Regions from separate parts of the Homo sapiens genome. Here region 2 is linked to region 1. A link means that fine-mapping ties the variant in region 1 to the expression of a gene that starts in the linked region. Tissue or cell type: tibial nerve. Region 1 holds a variant in brackets; the other region holds the start of a gene. All regions are shown on one strand. Distances are from middle to middle.

Region 1 (11,044 bases):
AAATGGTGTGTTAACCAGAAATTTTGCAGCCACAATTTTTATACCTTCTTCTCTCTCAGTCCCTGCATCTAATCCACCTTCAGGTCCTGACAATTTTACCTCCAAAACGGCCTTCAAATTCATCTACATCTTTCCAACTCAACTACCTCTGCCCTAGTCCAAGCTATCATCACATTTGGTCTTGACCACTGCCACAATCTCCTAACTCAAATCCCTGTTTGGATTCCTGCTGCATCCACAAATAGATATTCCACACCAAAAGCCAGAGAGGATTACTTAGAATGCAGATGTGATCATTTTATGCTCTTGGAAAAGTCTACAATGGCCAATAAAATTTTGAAAAGATGCTCCCCTGTTCACTCATTAGGAAAATGAAAATTAAAACCCCAGTGATATATCTCTACAAAACAACCAGAATAGCTAAAAAATTAAAATTTTTCAGTGCAGAATATCAAGTGTAGGTGAGTGTGAGAAGAGATTGGAACTCTCATACCTTGTTAGTGAGAATGTGAAATGGTATCATCATTTTGGAAAATGATTCTATAATATCTGCTAAAGCTGCATATACAACCATCCTGTGACCCTGCAATTATACCATTAAGCATATTCATCCAACAGAAATGCATATTTATCAAGACATGTTCATAAATGTTCAGAGCAGCACAATTCATAACAGCCCACAACTGAGAACATCCCAAATGCTTATTCACAACCCAATTGTGTATTCATATCATGAGAATGGACAATCTACAACTACTACAGACAAATTTCATAGACATTACTTTGAGTGAAAGAGGCCAGATAACAGATAATTCCATATACATAAAATAGAAAAACAGGCAAACAAATATATGTTGTGCAAAGTCAAAATAGTGCTTACTGGACGGGTGTGGACTGGCAGGGGGTACAAAGTGAGTCCTTCTTGGCTTCTGATAATATTCCGTTTCTTGGTCTGGGTGCTGTTTATGTGGATATTCAGTTTGTGGAAATTCAGTAAACTATGCACTTATCATATGTGCATTTTTCTGTATATGTTTATAGCTAAATTGAAAGTGTTTAAATTACTCAATGACTTCCCATTAAGGTAAAATACAAAATCATTAACATGGGCTACAAGACTGTAAAATCATCTAGCACCTGCCCTTAACTCCATACTTCTTCTGAGCTGCTAACCCCCTTGCTTAATAACTCCAGCCACATTGTCCATGAATCAGTTCCCTAAATATACCTCATTCCTTCCCATCTCAGGGCCTTTGTACCTGCTGTCCCCTGGCCTAAAACAGCAGCTGGCAAACTATGGCCCACAGGGCATTTCTGCCAATCCTGCCTGCCATTTGTTTCTGTAAGTAAAGTTTTACTGGAATCCAGCCATGTCCATTCACTTCTATATTGTCTACAGTTGCTTTGGTGCTATAACAGCCACAGAGATCATATGGTTCACAGAATGAAAATATTTGCTATCTGGCCCATTATAGAAAAGCCTTGCCAACCCCTGGCCTAGAACATTCTCACATGCCTGCTCTACCCCCATCTGTCTAACTCCTACTCACTTTTCAGAATTGAGAAAAAACAAACATGTCCTTTGTTGAAAGAAGCCTAAGTCTGTATGTTGATTGTACACTCCTGGACTTTTCTTCTAGGGCTCTCCCCTGCTTCAGATCAGCAGAGCAATGGCTTTCCTTGCTCTTCGAGTGAAATGCAAAATTCCCCACAGCCTACGAGCCTCTGCATGATTTGGTCTACTGTGTACCTCTTGGCCTTTTCTCCTACACTTGCTCTGATCTGATAACTATAGCCTCATTCTAAGACCTGGTTAAGTTCTTCTGAGCCTCAGAGACTTTGCCATGCTGCACCATATGCCTCAAATGCTCTTTCCCAGTTCCTCATCCAGCCAGCATTTGCTCACTCTTCACATGTCAGCTAAAAGATGGCTTAATAAAAAAGAGGCCACTCCCATAGAGGGTTACCACAGCCAAGTGCTGGAGGCTCCTCCCTCAGCTTGGGTTCCTGAGGCTGCTTCTTCTTTCAAAGAGAGACTCTTCTTGACCCTGCCCACACCCACCCCTGCATCTTGCTTCCACTTTTCCTTCCACAGAGGCTGCCCACTTCTCAGACACCACAACCCCCTCATAGAGCCCACCACAGGCTCCTCAGAATGGACCTCTCCCCTCACCGTCTCCCAGTTGATGACTGTTACAGACATAGCTCCCATAATATCCTGCCATCTGCCTTTTGCCCTCTGCCCTCTGCCCTACTCAGAACTGGTGCTGCCTCTCACTGGGAAGGGAATAGTCAGGTCCAGGAGAAGTCTCAAATCTTCATGGTGCTTCAGGCATAGAGATGAGTCACCCAGAGCCCCCACCAATGCAGGATTTGTTGCCTCCAGCTGCCAGTTCCTTCAGGATCAGGCTCAACTGCAGAAAGCCACCTTGGTGGAAGTCATGCCCTTCTGGGGGCAGCCCACATCAGAGACTGAGTGAGGTGGGGGCAGTAAGGCCCAGGCATTTCAGCACATGTGGAGATAGCTCTTCTTGCTCCAGAACACCCTGCCATGTAGGGCAAGGCCTTGTCAGGCCTGCATTGTAATTTTTTTGTTTTGTTTTGTTGAAATGGGGTCTCACTCCCATCTGGAGTGCAGTGGCGTAATCTCAGCTCACTGCAGGCTCAACTTCCTGGGCTCAGGTGATCCTCCCACCTCAGCCTCCAGAGTAGCTGAGACTACTAGTGATGGGGTTTCACCATGTTGCCCAAGCTGGTGTTGAACTTCTGGGCTCAAGCAATCTGCCTGTCTAGGCCTCCCAAAGTGCTGGGCTTACAAGCATGAGCACTGTGCCTAGCCTGCATTGCAGTTTGACTTCTCTGTCTTCCCAATCTTGTTTCCTGTCCCTTCCCTTTACATATTTTGACTCCTAATAAACACCATGAGCCCTGCATTCTGTCTCAGCATCTGCTTCTAGAGAACCCAACCTGCAACATTTATTTTGTATTATTATGGATTCAACACAGAATTTGGAGTCAGACAGGCCTGGGCTGGAATCCTAGCACTGGTGCTCACCAACCTGGTGGCCTTGGGAAAGTAATTTGAACTCCTAGCTTCCTAGCCTCTGGCTCAGGAAGTCTCCTCATCAAATGGAGATGAAAATATCTTTATTGCAGAGTTTTAGGATTAGTTGAAGTAATGTTATATGTCAGCATGTTAAAATGGAAGTTGGGAATGAGTGCCCAAGCTATGAAATGGAATTGAGGGACAGACCACCCCTTTCAAAGTAGATATCCCACAGTGGAACACATGACCTTTGTAAGTCCTCACCTACTTCAATTTATAAACAGTATGATTGAGGAGTATGTCTTAGAGAGTGGTTTTGAAACTCATATCTGGCTCCTGGAGGTAAAGGTGAATTGCAATTTTTACTTTGCTTCAAGACAAGAAAGAGGACTTCAGAAAGCTGACTATCCTAAAATTAGGGAGATACAATGGGCTCTTATCTGATTCCCACCAGGGAAATCAAAAGGGCAGGACACAGGCTGAATGGAGATGATTTAGCCATTCCACAATGTGTACATATATCAAAACATCATGTTGTACATCAGAAATATACATAACTTTTGCCCATTACAAATTAAAGAAAAAACACAATATTGAGCAAAATAAGTCAGATGCAAACTATTTTACACCATATGATTACATTTATATAAAGAACAAAAACAGGCAAAAGAAACATAAGTTAGAAGTCATGGTAGTATTTACCCTTGGGGACATTGTGACTAACAGAAGGCAAAAAGGTGGATTCTAGGTGCTTGTCACGTTCTGATTCTTGATCTGGGGTGCTGGTTACAGGAAGTGCTCAGTTTGTGGAACTTCACTGAGTTGTCCTCTTATGTTCACTTCTCTGTATGGTAAATTCAAAATAGCCCCATTTCTTTACATAAGCAAAAATCAATCAGATAATCTTGTAGGGGATAAAATACCATTCATACTAGCAACAGAAACACTCAAGAGTCAGAGTTAACAACAAGGAATGACCACGTTACCTGCAGAGAAAATTTTACACTGCTATGAAGAACATAAAAGAAGTATCTAAAAGGAGAGCTACGCAATCTTCATCGCTAGGGTAACTTAACATGGCAAAGCTGCCAATTCTTACCCAATAATGTATAAATCCAATAAAATACTTAGAAGAGTGATTCTCAAAGAGGGTTCCAGACCAGCAGTTCTCAAATTTTGGTGTACATCAGAATCATCAGGAGGGTTTATAAAAACAGATTCCTAGGTCTCCCCCAGAGTTCTGATGCAGAATTCCTCAGGATGAGGCTGAGGCTTGGCATTTACACCAAGTTTCCAGGTGATGTTGATGCTACTGGTTCAGCACTTAGACACTGTGAGAACCACTGCACTGGAATCAAGTCCCTCCTCCTCACCCTGTAGAAAACTCACCTCCCACAGACACACTGACACTTCATGCTTTATTACAGGACCTGCACTCCATGAACTTAAAGTAAAACAAGTTTTGCCCTTATCAAAATGTTAATTTGTCCAGGATGGTGAGAAGGATTAGCTGTTGCCAGCTTTTCATCAGTCCTTTGAAAGGAGTTGTTGACACTGCTCAGGGCCACCTTCTCTACTCCAAGTTACTCTTCAACCCAATGGCTTCTGCTCTTCTGCTAAAACAATTCCTGCTAAGTGTTTCAAGACCTTCTAACTGTTGAACCCAGTGGGAATGTTCCAATCACTGTGCCTCATACACTCCTACATTTGGCACAGGTGACCCCTCTCACCTCCTAAAATCCCTCCATACCCTTGACATTTGTAGGTACCTGCCTTTCTAGCCATTCTTTCTTCACCTCCTTCACAGAATTTATTTCCTTGTCCATCCTTTAAGTGCTGCTTGCTCCATGGCTCTATCCCGCAGTCATGCTCCTCAGGCCACCTTCTCATGCCCTTACCTGCATCCCATCCCTTCCCCCAAGCTGGATACTCATCCTTCAGCTTATCACCCATAGGGTCTCCATCTAGTTGTCACACAAGCATCTCAAATCTAACATGCTTCTTCTCCAGTGCTCCCTGGCTCAGTGAATGGAACCAATATCAACTCAATTGCCTAAATCAAAAATTTGGGAGTCAGTTTTGATGCCTCCCTCTTCCTTAGCCCCCATAGCCTATGAATTGCTCACTTGTGGGCCTTTGCTTATATGGTCCTCGATAAGGAATGCTCTTCCCGTTCGCCTCAGACTTCTCACAAGTCACTCTGACTCATTTTTTTTAAGAGACAGGATCTCACTATGTTGCCGAGGCTGGATTCAAACTCCTGTGCTCAAGTTATCCTCCCATCCCAGTCTCTCAAGTAGCTGGGACTGCAGGTGCATAGCACTGTGCCCAGCTCCACTCTGACTCATTCGTTAAGATTCAACCTAATCATCTCCTCCTCGTGAAGCCCTTCCTAACACCTCCTACTAGGCAGCCAGAATTCCATAATCCCCAATCCTTACAACGTCTGTGTATTTGCCACAGTGTGGCAGTTAGTGCAGAGTCCTAATTAGGGAAAAGGGAGCAGGGGAAAGGGAAAGGGAAAAGGGAGCAGGCTAGAGGGAGCAGGGGAAAGCAGGAAAGAGAAAGCAGATAAGGGGCAAGTCTGCCTTTCTTCAATGTCCTGGATATGCAGCCCTCCTGCACACAACTTGCCACCAGGCACCTGCAAATTATCCATTGCAACCTTGGCATCATCGGTACTGCACAAAGCCCTCTTCAGCACACAGCATAAACACTCTTCTAGAAAATCCCCAGCAAGCTTTTGTTTCCTGGCAGTCCACTCCTCTTCTGCTGATTCTGCCCATTGCCTCATCACAACAAAGTATTTTCTACTGTCTCTCACAAATCTGCCGTTCTTTATCCACAA[C/T]TGTCTTGGTAAATTTTTTTACCCCCGCTCCACCAGCCCAAATAGTTGTTGCTCCCTTGCAACAGTTAGCTCTTTGTATATCTGTTTCCCATAGTTCTTTTATGTCTTTTCATTTAACAAATACTTATAGACCTCCTTCTATATGGCTGGCACTGATCTAGCCCCTTAGGAGTCATCAGTGAACAGAACAGTGAATATCTCTGCCTCCATGGACTGCAAAGCTGGCTCACTGTGCACTGGTTACCACTTTAGCCCACTGCATCTTGGGCTGCAATTTCTACTACTTGCTTGAGTCCAGTGAGACAGAACACTCATGCAAGTTAAGTGAAGCAACGTTTTTACTCACAGATAGACAGCAAGAAAGAGTAAAAGCCTAGAATTCATAGCAAGTCAGTTCCCAAGGCTCAGAAAAGCTGTCCTGAGTGGATGGAATCCTGTCTTCACGTGCCCCACTTGCCCAACAGCTGAAGGGCCGGGAAAGCAGTCCTCCTGGGTTTTATACCCTGGGAACAACATGATATGCTGGGCTAAGGCATTGAAGGACACCTTGTTCTAGGAGGGACAAGATCAGAGCCCAGAGTATTCTGGCCACTTCCTCCTTATTTCAAGATGTTATATTTCCAGCACATGCCAGTTATTCTTGAGAACTGCAAGTGAGAAAGGAGGAAGAACTAGATCAGTCCAAGGAGAACTGTACTGCATGGTCCTTACATTCTAGAGCATCTGTGTCCCCAGGATTTAGCCAGGGTATGGAATACATTCAATAAACACTCCTTGAATGAATATACTTACATTGCAGTGTGGATGAGACAATTATAGTCTTTTTCCAGAGCACACTTTAAAAAAGAGAAGTAAGAGCAAAAATGGAGGGAGGCAGAAGAGGGCAGATCCAGGGCATAGCCAGAGGAGGAAGGGAGATGGCTCCCACCTGGATCCAGACAACAGTTTCCAAACTAAAACCTGGAAAGCTTAAGAAATAACTCGCCTGCAGGCTCAGTTCCCTGCACCATCTGCATTGATTTGTAGAGGGGCCCTTCTAGATCAGCCTGGGAATCTTCTTCTCCCACAGGGGGAGCTCAAGACCTGCTGACCAAGAGGCATCTCCCCAGGCTACGGATGCCTTGGTACCCATAGGGATACCCATAGCTCAAGGGAGGGGGAGTGATAGGCAGACCCTGAGCACCACCACCCCCACCCCGCCAGCCAAGCAACAGGGCCGGTGTCAGTCCCCAGGAAGCAAGAGACCTATAAGGGGCCTAGGGATCCTAGGGGATGAGGATAATGGAGATGCACTTCTATTATTAAACAGCAAACGACTATATTGATCAGGATACTTCAATCTAAAAAGATGGCTCCTAGAAAGGGAAGATGTTGAAGCAAAGGAAGCAGCAGGGTCCTTTCTTAATGTCACTTTCTGACATGGTTTAGTGATTTCACAGCATTCAGGCCTACATATCAGTCCCTGACCATATTAATCTTCCTCAGCGGTGATCTCCCATAGCATGGGGAACACCTCTCCATCACTGTCTTGGTTCTGCCCAGCACCCCTTGTTAATAAGGCAGGCTGGGAATGGGGAGGTACATATGAGCGACAGCCAGGCTAGGCTCCACTAATGACTAGGTCTCAGTTTCTTCTTCTCTAATTTCATCAACATCGTCATCATTCAGTACTCGCTATGTGCCAGGCATTGTTGTAAGTACTCTATATATCTAACTCACTTAATCCTCACAACAACCCTAGGAAGTACACACTAGCACGATTCCCATTTTACAAAGAAGGAAGCACAGAGAGGCTAAGTAACTCACTCAACTCACATAGCTCACACAAGAGTGTGCAGTGAAGCCTGAATGTGAAATCAGAGCACTGGCCTCAAAGTCTGTGCTCTTAGCAAATGGATTCAATCTTGCTTGAAACACTGATTAACATGTGGTGCTACTGAGAAGGATTCTGAACCTTCTCAGGAGCACTCAGTAGGAAAAGTGCCATAGCTGATTAGCAATGTCTGCAATGGTGATGTAGATGCTGTCTTTTTTATTCTTGTATTATATAATGGCAAAGACACTCTCCCTCACCAAACTTTAGTTAGTCTCTTCTGAGACATCTTTTCAACTAGGCCCTTTGCCTTGGCCCCATCCTGTCTTTGGCCTGCCTAGCCCACTCTTAGGAATAATCAGCATTGGTTAAGTTATATGCTGTGATTTTTTTAAAAAATAAAAGAAAATCTCAAAATGTCAGTGGCTTACATCAGCAAAGGATTGTTACTTGTTCATATTACATGTGGGCCATGAGTCAACTACAGATCTGCTCCATGTGTCTTTTTTTTTTTTTTTTTTAGACGGAGTCTAGCTCTGTTGTCCAGGCTGGAGTGTAGTGGCGCAGTCTTGGCTCACTGCAACCTCTACTTCCTGGGTTCAAGTGATTCTCTTGCCTCAGCCTCCCGAGTAGCTGAGATTACAGGCATGTGCCACCATGCCCAGCTAATTTTTGTATTTTTAGTAGAGACAAGATTTCACCATGTTGGCCAGGCTGGTCTCAAACTCCCGACCTCAATTGATCTGCCCGCCTCAACATCCCAAAGTGCTGGGATTATAGGTGTGAGCCACCGCACCCGGCCCACATGTCTTCTTCATTCTGAGATCTAGGCTAAATGTGCAGCCCCTCTCTGAGATGAACACCAGTCTCATGGCAGAGGGGAAAGAGCAATGGTGGGCCTTCTGATGCACTTAGAGCTTATATTTACATATGGTAAATAGAACAGTGTATTGGCCAAAGCAAGTCAAAATGGCCAACCCTGACGTCCTTAGCAGAAATATAATCCATCCACAGACAGGGGCACCTGCGAGGGACACTGTGGCTATAAACCCAGTGGAGAGCAGCAGCCAACAGTTGGGAATGATCATCTGATTTACCACAATGGGTGTAAAGTTTTGGCTCAGCTCTTTCTTCTCTGGCCTCAGTTTCTCAGCTGTAAAGTGTGTGTGTGTGTGTTTGTGTGTGTGTGTGTGTGTCAGGGTGCAGGGCTAAAAGGAGTCAACCTCTAAGGCTCTTTCCAGTTTTATACAGTCCCACTCCAATACCTGAATTCTCCTCTTGCCTGTCCAGCTGGGTTTTAGAACCATAGATTTCAATCCCTCTTCACACACTAATCTGAACAGTTAACATACACCACCTATTTTCAGTTTTTTCCCCTTACACCTAAGACTGATAGTTTCCATGTACAACATATCCTGTAACCATTCCCAGCTTTACAAAGATAAGTCATTGGTTCTACATGTGACTTGAAATAGCAGAGTGCCCCCTGCTTGTCTCCCCATCTCTTACTGACTCAAAAGTAGTCCTGCTCACCTAAGGAGGCAACTAGGAAATTCAGGCTTACTGCCCCTCACACATCAGCATCTGCTAACACAACCAGCTCCTGGTTTCATCCATTGTTGCTAATAATTACTGGTGACTCCCCTTGAGATCCTCACAGCCATGAGGATATGACTAGGACAGATTCTATCCATCCTTCCTTAAGCCATCCAACTTTGCTAACCCCACCCAGACCAAACCACAGCATCACAACACACATGTAAGTTTCTGTACCAAATGGTCTGAACAACCTCAGAGTAATAGAAACTCGAGGGAGAAACAAAGGAGGAGCTCCATCTGAAAGGGTTTTTGGCCTTTTCAAGAGGAATGACCACTGTGGATGAACCTCCCTCCCTTCCTCACTCAGTCTCTTTTTCTAATGGATCCTCACTTTCCATATTCATTCACTTCAGTGTCTTTCAATTTGGTGCACCCAACTGCTACCTTATTCAAGTAACCCCACCCTTCCCACAGAAGGCGACAGTTCCTAATCTTTCAAACATCTACTGTGCCTTAAGCAGGTGACCATTGCAACAGTTTGTGAGCAAGGCTCCGGTTCCACGAGGGAGGGCGAATGTGGGAGCTCCTCACCTGGAAATGCTGTTCTCTTTGCTACCCAGCAAGAACGGCCCCAGCTTCCAAAAGAGCCTTTTGATTTCATTCTTCCCTGAAAGAGGAGATGGTAGTGTTAGCAGTTCCTGCCCTCACCTGCACAATTCCTCTACTTCCTTATCTTTCCTACTGATCCTGAAACCCCCATATTTTGTGATGGAGACTGTGATGCCCTGCCCAGAAGCCCCTCCAGGGAATAACTTGTTGCCCCAACTGCTGGGGGGGCCTGTCAGTGGATAGTCCTGAGCCCTCAGCCCCTTCAGATATTGCTTCAGCTTCAGAGTCCCCTCAACCAAGGTCACACTCTTCCCAGGATAGCCAACATTCAATGACTAATCAAGATAGGGTATAAAAGGCCTGGACTTCTTGACCCAACTTTGGACAACTTTGAAGCATCGTTCTAGTTAGAGAGCCATGGCTGTCATTGGACCTTCCTTTGGCTCACTTCTGCTTTCTGCCTCTCCCTTTCATAAGCATTGATCCCCAGGCCTCTACTTAATAAATATCCTGCAAGCTAAACTCTATCTCAGAGTCAGTTTCTCATGGAACCCAACCTGCAACAGAAACTAACTTGGAAAACCAGTGATACATGTATATAATAGAATTAATAGATGATTCCTCTTGATCTTACTGCCCCCTGTCACTCAAAACCAAGACTATCAAAAGGTTTTCTCAACCTGAACACTATTGACAATTTGAGCTGGACAATTCTTTGTTGTGGAGGCTGTCCTGTGCATTGCAGTATGTTTAACAGCATTGCTGGCCTCCACCCACAAGATTCCAGTAACGCCTTCCCAGTTATGACAACCAAAAATGTCTCCAGACATAGTCCTCCGTGGAGCAAATAAGCCCTCAGTGAAAACTACTGATTTATAAGAAGCATCCCAGCAGGCAGATTCAGTAAGTGTGTAAAAGCATTTGGACCCTGAACATAAATATTTTTTACTTAAAATGTAATGCCTCTTCTGAGGCACTTGCCAGAAAACTCTTTCTCCAATTGCCTTCTCAGACTTGCTTGTCAAAAGCACAGTTGAGACAACAGATGTTTGAGAAAACTGGCCCAAGGAACTTCTTAGCTCTCCATTTCTCTAAATATTTCTCATCTCTTTCTCTGTAATTATTTAGATCCAAGAAAACAGCATGCTTGGACTACATTCCTTTAATTAAAAATAATAATAGTAATTTT
Region 2 (9,521 bases), 27 kb before region 1:
AGTCTTAGAATACTATTCCACACACTCTTCTGCCCTCCTCCAATCCCAGACACAGTGATTTATCCATCAAAACCCAGTTCAGATTTAATTACCACCAGGAAGGGTTCCTCCCTTTCTTAACTCTCTTACCTGCCTCTCCATTACCCTAACGCCACAGAGTGCTCATCTCACCATATCATAATCGTACATTTCTATGTCTCACACCTCCTCACCCACTCCCCGCAATCACACTGTGGCAGGGGCAGTGATGGGCCAATGGCTTATTCATCTCTACATCCTCAGGGCCAGCATGCAAGAGCAGGCAGTATTTGGCCATTTGGCCAGGAAGAATTTCCTCCAGGAGGCTGGTCCTAGGGCATTTGAAGGAAGCTGGGTTTGATCCATTATCTACCCAGTAGGAACATCCTACTCAACAGCAGCAATTCCTAGCTCTCTCTACCCCAGCTCCAGGCCAGACCTGCCTAGGAGGCCTGAACCCTCCCCATCATCTCTCCAAACACAGTGCTCTTCAGGTCCCACAAAGGACTCAGGCTTTACCCAAGAGGGAGTAGCCTAGGGCCTTGTACTCAAAATGTGGTCCCTAAAGAAACAACATCTACATAGTATTCCATGGTGTATATGTGCCACATTTTCATTCTCAGCAAACTATCGCAAGGACAAAAAACCAAACACCGCATTTTCTCACTCATAGGTGGGAATTGAACAATGAGAATACATGGACACAGGAAGGGGAACATCACACACCGGGACCTGTTGTGGGGTTGGGGGAGGGGGGAGGGATAGCATTAGGAGATATACCTAATGTTAAATAACGAGTTAATGGGTGCAGCACACCAACATGGCACATGTATACATATGTAACTAACCTGCATGTTGTGCACATGTACCCTAAAACTTAAAGTATAATTAAAAAAAGAAAGAAACAACATCTACAGAACTTAGGAGCTAGGGAGAAAAGCAGAATCTTAGGCCCCACCCTAGACCTCCTGAATCAGAATCTATATTTTAATAAGATCCCCAGATGATTCATATGTCCAGCAATATTCAAAAAGTACTGGCCCCAGGCAGCCAAACAGAATCCATTCAGCTAAAAGGTAACTTTAATAACAATACTTTTCATTTGTAATAATATCTGGTAATTGCTTTACATCACTAAATCCTCAGAGCAATTTGAATATGCCCATTTTACCAATAAGGAAACCGAGGCTCAGAGTAGTTGGGTATCTCGCTCAGGATCACATGGGTTTGAGGGGCCAGAGCCCAAATGTGAAAGCAATTCTGATGGACTCACCTCCATAACTACACACTACATGACACCCTGCCCTTTGCAAATTCTGTCAACATTTAGCCTTCAAAACCAGCCCAAGCAGCTCTGGAGACTTCCCTGTCCCTTCATGCAGCCACTGATCTGGTGATTATCTCTATTCTACCACTTGCTATCCACATCATGATGCCTCTACATACACCACTGTCCCCAAGAGATTGCCAGTTGTCTCTGTATAAAGATTTTATGGGCTTCCCCTATAATCACTGGATGAGTCCATGAAAATATTTCCCCTTTGACCATCAAAGAACACTCTGAGGCTGGCTGAACAATTGCTATTAAATGAATGGTGAAGATACTGAGGTTCCTAGAGAAGTTCAGTGACTTGCCCCAGGTCACCAGGAGGCTTCAGAACTCTGAGGATGGAGCCAAACTCCCCTCCCCAATTCCCAGTACAGATGTCTTCTTCCCACTCTTTCACTTTCCCTAGATTTCTCTCTTCTGACCTACATTACCAAGCAGTTAACAAAAACATTCTTTTCAAAGAACTCCCCCACGTATGCATCTTCAAAAGGGGCTCTGCTCCACCAGCAGACGGGCAAAATTTAGACATTATCAAGAGGCCACCAAAGGAAAAGGTGAGGAAACTCAGGATGCCAGATCAGATACAATGACCCTCCTGGATCCAAGGAAAGGAAAACGTCTTCAAGCAAGAGCCTCCAACTAAAGCAGCCCATCCAAGCCCCTACCCAGTAACCTCACCGTCAAGACAAGACCCCTCTGAGAACTTCTGGAGGCTGGTGGAGACCTACCCACCCTCCCTGACCAGGCACCACCACCCGCCTGCAGGCTGCAGGATTGAGATTCCACCAGCCAAAGCAGCCCTTTTCCTCCCCTTTGTTGGCTTTAGAAAGAAACTAAGACTGGCTTGTCCAAAGAAAACCAAAACATCTGCCTGAAATATTCAAATATTTAGGGGAAAAAAGGGGAAAATCCCTCTTTGGGGGATTTTTTCTTGGGAAAAAAGAGAAGCCAGAAATGAGATCCTGGGACAACTAAGCAACTCTGTTTTTTGCTTTTCTGAGCACCACGCCACCATGATCATTGAGTACTGTGTGCACTGCCAAAGAAGCACTGATCAGGGGGCTAGTGGACACTGAACACCTGTCTGCCAATCCGTTGCCTGGGCATGGGGATCCATCTGCCCAGAAGGGAACACCTTTTGTGAATTCATACAAAGGCACCCTACAGGTTAGCATGGGCTACCTATTACCGATGTTAGTCATGTTTGGATAACATAGGAAGAATAAAAACATTGACAGTGAGAAGGGTCCATGTTTTTATCTGGATTCCTTAGAATCAGATCCTGAGATAAGAATTCCTATGAAAGTGTATTAGGAGATATTCCTAGGAAAAAATGGTAGGGATGTGAAGAAGTAAAACAAGAAAAAGTAGCAAGCCAAGCGAGGGAAACAAGCCAAGCAAAGAACCATAGAGGTCAATTTGACACAACTCCACATTGGATCTCTGGAAACAAAGGATGTCATGCTTCAGAGTGTCCCAATCAAGGGCAAAGAAGCTGGACTATTTATACTCCAGCACCCATCAGTCATTGAGGAGGGGCTGCCCCAGGGGAGATGTAAATTCCCAGGCACTCCCTGTTCTGAGTCCCTACAAACATAGGCTCTGCCGCCCAAGGGTCATCCTCCAACAAAGAGATGGAGGGACTGGCAATTGGAAGTGAAGGCACCCAGGGTACCAATACGCACCAAGATGGCAAAGCTCACCATAAAAGAACATGACTCAAAAATCTTTCAAACCTAAATGAAAGGAGTTACAGAACATCTTTCAGAAAACACTTTCTGCCCCTCTTTGTTCTTTCTTCAGTGAAGCAATTTAAATATTAAATTGAAATGCTTTTCTAAAGTTGGGCTGTGAGGCAAACCCAATACTCTTTTCTTTTTTTTTTTCTTCCTGAGGGTCTTGCTTCTTGCTACTTTATCCTAAGGATAAGCACAATGCTTGCCTATTGCTGTAGATGCCTCATTGATCAAGATCATTAGCTCAACATCAGCCCAACAGATCTCCACTGTAAGCAGTTACACAGACACTTCACAGCTCCTAATACAATCATCAAAGTGCAGGGCCACCTAATTAATGCCAAGAGGTTTTATGACAGCCAATGATGAAGGTGGGACCCTGCTTCAATTTAACAGCTGTCATCTTGGACAATACATCAAGGAAAGGAAATGGAATCAACTAGGAGGGGGTGAGGTGGAGGAATGACTAACTGTTAGGATTGAATAACAACGGAGTTCCCTCCACAACTTCTCACACACTTCCCCCCTCCCAGCAGGCAGATACTCTGAAAAGGTGTCCCCAGACGCCTCTGCCAAGGACTGGCACAGCCTTCTCCCTTCCTCACCACACCTCGCCCCCAGGGCCAGACATGGAAAGGAGTGTAAATGTGATCCTATATTTGAAATTAATTGATAGGATATTTCACGAGCTCAGATTTTTTTATATTAATTCCCAAATGCTCTGCCTGTATCCTTTTTCCTAATCATCTTTGGTTCTTCTGTGTTTCTTTAGTTCTAAGGAGGGTTTCTTGTCATTTAGATGGGTCAGAGACCTCTAGAGACCTGGATCCAACTCCAGCTCCGCTGCTATGGAGCCGTGTGACCCTGGGCAAGGCACGAGCTCTGTGGGCCTCAGTTTTCTCATCTGAGAAATGGGGATAATTCCATTCTTTACAGATTTGTGGAGAGGATGAAATACGCTTAACTCTAGGTGAAGCGCTTGGCATGTTGAGTTGCACAATAAATGTCAGCTCCCTCCCTGCGCCTTCTCCCTTCTGCAGCCTCACCGCACCTGCACCTTGAAAGACACCCAGTGCGTTTCCCAGGAAGGGCCCCCCTGCTGGCGAGGGAAATAAAATCAGCTCCGGAGAGCGTTATTCCCCTAGAAAGCAGGTTTCAGGTGGTGTACACCCGCACGCGCGCGCGTTTACACACACGTACACACACATACACACGTACACACACATACACACACACAGTCCTCCGTACACCCACGCGGGGTCTGGCACTGCTGCTACATCCCGCACGGAGCGGGGTCCAGAGTTAGGGCGAATGAGTCCTCCCGCCCCCGCCAAGGTGGCGCCCAGAACGGGTCGGTGCCGGAGCGCACGGTACTCACCCGGGGCAGGCCGCGCCGGGCAGGCTGGGGCTGGCCGGGCCGGGGGCGGCGGCGGCTGCGGGGCTGGAGTGGCGGCGGGCATGGCGCGGCGGCGGGCTCGGGGAGAGCCTGGAGCAGAGGTGGCAGCGCGGGGACGCGGCTCGACGGTCGAGCAGGCGCGGGAAGGCGGGGCGAGACGAGCAGCCACGAGCCCGCGCCGACTCTCCCTCTTCTCTCCCTCCCGCCGCCCGCCGCCCGCCTGCCAGCCCCGCGCCGCGCAGCGCCCGGCGACAGCCACCGGGAACGTCTCCGGGGGCGCGGGACTTAGCAACCGCGCACCAGCTGCAGCCGCCCTCTCTGCGCCGGTCCCGCCATGCGCGCCGCTCCTGGCCCTGGAGGCCGGGCGGGGCCGGGCTTTGAACTTGCTCCCACACCCCCTGCTTCTCCAGTGAGCGCCCAAAGGCGGTCCCGCCTCTCCCCGGTCAGCGGAGTCCAGCCTTTCTGCTCTCCTTCCCCGCGCAGTTCCGCGGTGGAACCTGGCTGCGCTGGGTTTTGAACGTGCGCTTTGCCCCTGTTCTCTGTGGGTGGGTGGCAGCCCAAAGGCGACCCCAGGACCACCAGCCATCCTCGTGCCTCCCTGCAGGGCAGGGGCCAGACTTTCCACACCACTTCCTTCCTCCTATCCCATTCCCGCTCCTTGGATACACTGACCGTAGGTCCCAGGGCCGTTCTACTCTAACACCCTTGTTGCCCCCCAGATTCAGAGACCTGCTTACACTCTGGTCCACACCCATGGTCTCAAAGACTTAGGCTGCAAAACGTTCCTCCAGCCTAGTGGCTTCTTGGTACCATCTGAAGGCAGCTCGATGGCCCCTTGCTTTGTTGTACCTCTTCCCAGCACCACACACCTGTTCCTCATATTTGCAGGTCCCTCAGGTCTGCAGTGCGGGGTCTGGGGACCCATATTCCCGGGTACTGACTCCCAGATCTCTCCTGCGTCAGATAATAAATTCACTGGATCAGCCATACCCTTCTCTCCACAGGGCCGTTGACATGATTACAGAGTGGTCTGGCTTTTGCCTTTATCAATCAAGTCACAAAGTGGTCTTGTCTGTTGGGTCTGATGTTGCTGTTCTGTGAAATTGTTTATGCTCAACAGAACGCCAAGGCCGAGCTGATAGAACCAGACCAGCTCCCAGATGGCAGGGGCTGTCTTTCTCTTTATCACACATAACAAGAAGCCTGGAAGAAGGCTCCTCTGTGTGTGTTCAGCTGCTCAGGGATGACGTTAAGGACTCAGTCTCTTTCCATGATTCCACATGGCCACCTTCAACATCTTGCCTTTTCTCCTCAGACTTGTTGCCTCAAGGTTCCAAAATGGCTGCAACAGCCATGCCATGATGCTGCTGTGCAAAAAATAACTCCTGGTTCTAGCTGGTTTGTTGGCCAGGTACTCTGAAGTCATCATCAAGGACAGTTTTCAGCAATCCAGTTCACCAATGGTGAACACAACAAATGCCCTGCCTTCAAGTCACTCACCTTCTAGTAGGGGGAGACAGATAATAAAATACACAAGTATGGTGATAAATAGTATGAAGAAAAATGAACCAAGAAAAAGGGAATGTGATTATGTAAGTTGAGTGGTTGGGAAAGGTAACATTTGAGTAAAAACCCGAAGGAAGAACCTATTGGAAATCTCTCTGGGAGACAAGTGTCCTTGAGATACTTACACACTTTCTTTTTAAAATCACTTACTTTTCTCTTTAACAGCCACTCTTCCTGGCCCTATCACCTATATTTTAGGAGAAAATAAAAGTTAAATAAACTGAGTTTTAGTAAAAAGGTTTAAGCTTTGTAAAGGAGAGATCAGATGACTTGTGTTTTCTTCCTTGCAAAAGCAGCAATCTCACAGTGTTTAATTATTGGCTGGATTATCATGATTTAAATACGAACTAGATATACACATATCAAGCAATCACAATGAACACCTTAAGTTATCAGATTACTTCACAAGAGTGAGGGATATATCTTGTTGAATATTGGCAAAGAAATTGCTAATTGCCTACTCAACACCTATTTTCATTTCTGATCCGGTATTTTAAAAAAAATGTTTTTTAGCTAAGCATACTACCACCTGCAATTTAAAAAAAATACATTTTCTAGCCTCCCTTGCAGCAAGGAGTGATGATATGAAAAGTTTCTGGCCAATGAAATATAATTGTAAGTGTTGTATTGGATTTTCAGTAGATGCCTTAAAGATGCTGATTTGGCTGACAGATGCACTCCTTTGTCCCTTTTCCTTCGTCCTGGAATCCAGGTATAATGATGTGGTAGGTGAGATTATTAATTTCAGTTATTCACTCCATTCCTCAATTGAATTGGACAATCCACCCTTTATGGTACTTGGAGTGTGTTTCCCTGTACCTTGACTTTAGGCTTGGCCATCTTTCTTTTTCTTTCTTTTCTTTTTTGTTTTGTTTTGTTTTTAACTTTAAACAATTTTTTATTACACAAAGGTTGTCACATAATTGGATATTTCTCTACTTTGTACATAATTATTCTCACCCTCCACAGAAAGTCTGCTTAACTTCTCATCTGGTGGTGGCAAGCACTAAAATCCTGATTTTAACAGAATAGTAGTAAAAATGCCTCAGTTATTTAAGTTGAAGGCAGTACATTGGTACATGACTCTTGTACCCAATATCAGGAATGTACAAATGTCTTTTTATTCAAAAATACAAAATAAAGTATTGATAGGCATGGACAATGACAGCAGTAAACCATTATATATTTTGTCAACTGAACCAGTAACTGATGGTTATAATGATTTCTTAAACATCAGCCAGCCTTTTCTTCATTTTCTCCAACTGACTTCTCTGAAGTTATTGGTGAGGAACACTGCCTTGACTTCCTGTCACAGTTCATTAATAAAAGTAAAGCACTATTCTAGGAGTTACAACATGCCCCCTCCCATACCACATCCCATTCCACCCATTGCACCCATTCCAGGGTCCTTCTCTTCTTTAGGAATTTCTGTGACTACAACTTCTGCTGTAGTTAACAGAGAGGCCACACCAGCAGCATCCAATAAAGCAGTTCTCACAACCTTTCTTGGGTCAATAATTCCTTTTCCCACCATATTCACAAAATCTCCGACCCTAGTAGCATCATAACCAACTTCTGAGGAACGTTGCATAATTTTCTCAACTATCGAAGATCCTTCAACACCTGCATTCTTAGCAATGGTCATTGCTGGAATTTTGAGTGTTGTTTTGATTGTTTATATACCAATTAGTTTATCTTCATTAGCTGGAGTCAATGAGTCCAAGGCTGGAATGCACCAAAGCAGGGCACAACCCCCTCCCAAAACAATGCCTTCTTCAACAGCAGCTCTGGTAGCATTAAGGGCATCTGTAACTCTGTCTTTCTTTTCATTCGCTTCAACATCACTTGTCCCACCAACCTTTGGCATAGCTATCCCATCTGAAAGTTTTGCCAGTCATTCAGTTTTTCCTTTTCATATTCACTAGTTGTGACATCTAACTGCTCAATGATTTCTTGAATATGTTTTTCAATTTGAGCATTGCCACCTTTTCCTTTTAAGAGCATGGCATCATCTTTGGTCACAATGACCTCTCCAACTTTTCCTAAGTCATGAGGCTGAACATCTTCAAAATGTAGGATCAACCCCTCTTCTCCAAACACTGCACCAACAGTAGTAACAGCCATATCTTTGAGCTGGTTCTTTGTCACAAAACCCTGGAGCCTTGACTGCCACAACCTGAAAATCAATCTTTAGGCTGTTCAAGACAAGTGTACTTAGAGCTTCTCCACCAACATCTTCAGTGATTATGACCAAAGGCTTACGGTGAGCACTGGCAGTTTCAAGAGCAGGTACAATGGACTGGACACTAGAAATTTTCTTTTCACTCAACAGAACATATGCCTCCTGGAATTCACATTTCTGACCTTTTGATGTATTAATAAAGTATGGAGAAACATAGCCTCGATCAAACTTCAAGCTTTCAATAATTTCTAATCCATCATTCAGTGTTTTCCCATCCTTTACTGTTATGACACCCTTTCTTCCCACCTTTTTCACTGCATCAGAGAGGATATGGCCAATTTCTTTGTCTCCACTTGCAGAAATTGTAGCAACCTGCGCAATTTCTTCAGGGGTGGTCACAGGTTTAGACTGCTTTTTAGGTTCAGCTATTACAGCATCAACAGCTAACATCACACCTCTCCTGATTTCCACTGGATTAGCACCTTTGCTAATCTTCTCAAAGCCTTCCTTGGCAATAGAGCATGCCAGTACAGTAGCAGTGGTAGGGCCATCCCCAGCCTCTTCATTTGTGTTATTGGCAACATCTTGAACGAGTTTAGCTTCAATATTTTTATATTTATTCTTTAAGTCAATTGACTTTGCAACAGTCACACCATCTTTTGTTACTTTGGGACTTCCCCAGCTCTGCTCAATAATCACTGTTCTTCCCTTTGGCCCCATTGTAATGGCTACAGCATCGACTAAAAGGTCTACACCTTGAAGCATTAAGGCTCAGGCATCTGCACTGAATTTTACATCTTTGGCATAAGCCCGAGTGAGATGAGGAACCAATACCCTGGACAATGGTCTTATCTAAAGACAGTGGGGAACCGAAGCATTTCTGTGAGGTGGTGGCAGGGCATGCCCGGGGCGTGGCGAGGCAGGTCGGCAGTGAGTGAGGCCTTTTTTTTTTTAAGACTTAGTTTCGCTCTTGTTGCCCGGGCTGAAGTCCAATGGCGCAATCTCGGCTTGCTGCAACCTCTGCCTCCCAGGTTCAAGTGATTCTCCTGCCTCAGCCTCCTGAGTAGCTGGGACTACAGGCGCACACCACGACACCTGGCTAAGTGACCATCGTTCTTACTTAGGCCAGTAGGATGTTATTGAACATAATGTGAACAGGGGGTTAGAAAGTACTCCCATGGTTTGGTTTGCCCGGGTATGCTTCTGCCAATAGCCTAAATATCTGCTGGTCCGAGATAAATGTGGAGAAATATGATGCAGACCTAAACTTCAACAGGTAGCTAAGTTCGGCCA

Evidence for each region. PIP is the estimated chance that this variant, and not a neighbour inherited with it, causes the effect.
Region 2: it holds the start of DCLK3, and the variant in region 1 is fine-mapped to the expression of DCLK3 in tibial nerve (GTEx, PIP 0.96).

The regions. Positions count from the first base shown.
Region 1 is chr3:36,785,564-36,796,607 of GRCh38, forward strand. No RefSeq gene overlaps it. Among named protein-coding and RNA genes, the nearest start is that of DCLK3, 27 kb to the left of the region's middle. The variant C/T (reference allele first, on the strand shown) is at 5,895.
Region 2 is chr3:36,759,720-36,769,240 of GRCh38, forward strand. It overlaps DCLK3 (doublecortin like kinase 3), which reads right to left and starts at 4,834. Exons shown (of 5, transcript NM_001394672.2): 1 at 4,463-4,834. The coding sequence starts at 4,544. LOC105377029 (a long non-coding RNA gene) reads right to left here. Exons shown (of 3, transcript XR_940721.2): 3 at 9,269-9,521. It also overlaps the pseudogene HSPD1P6.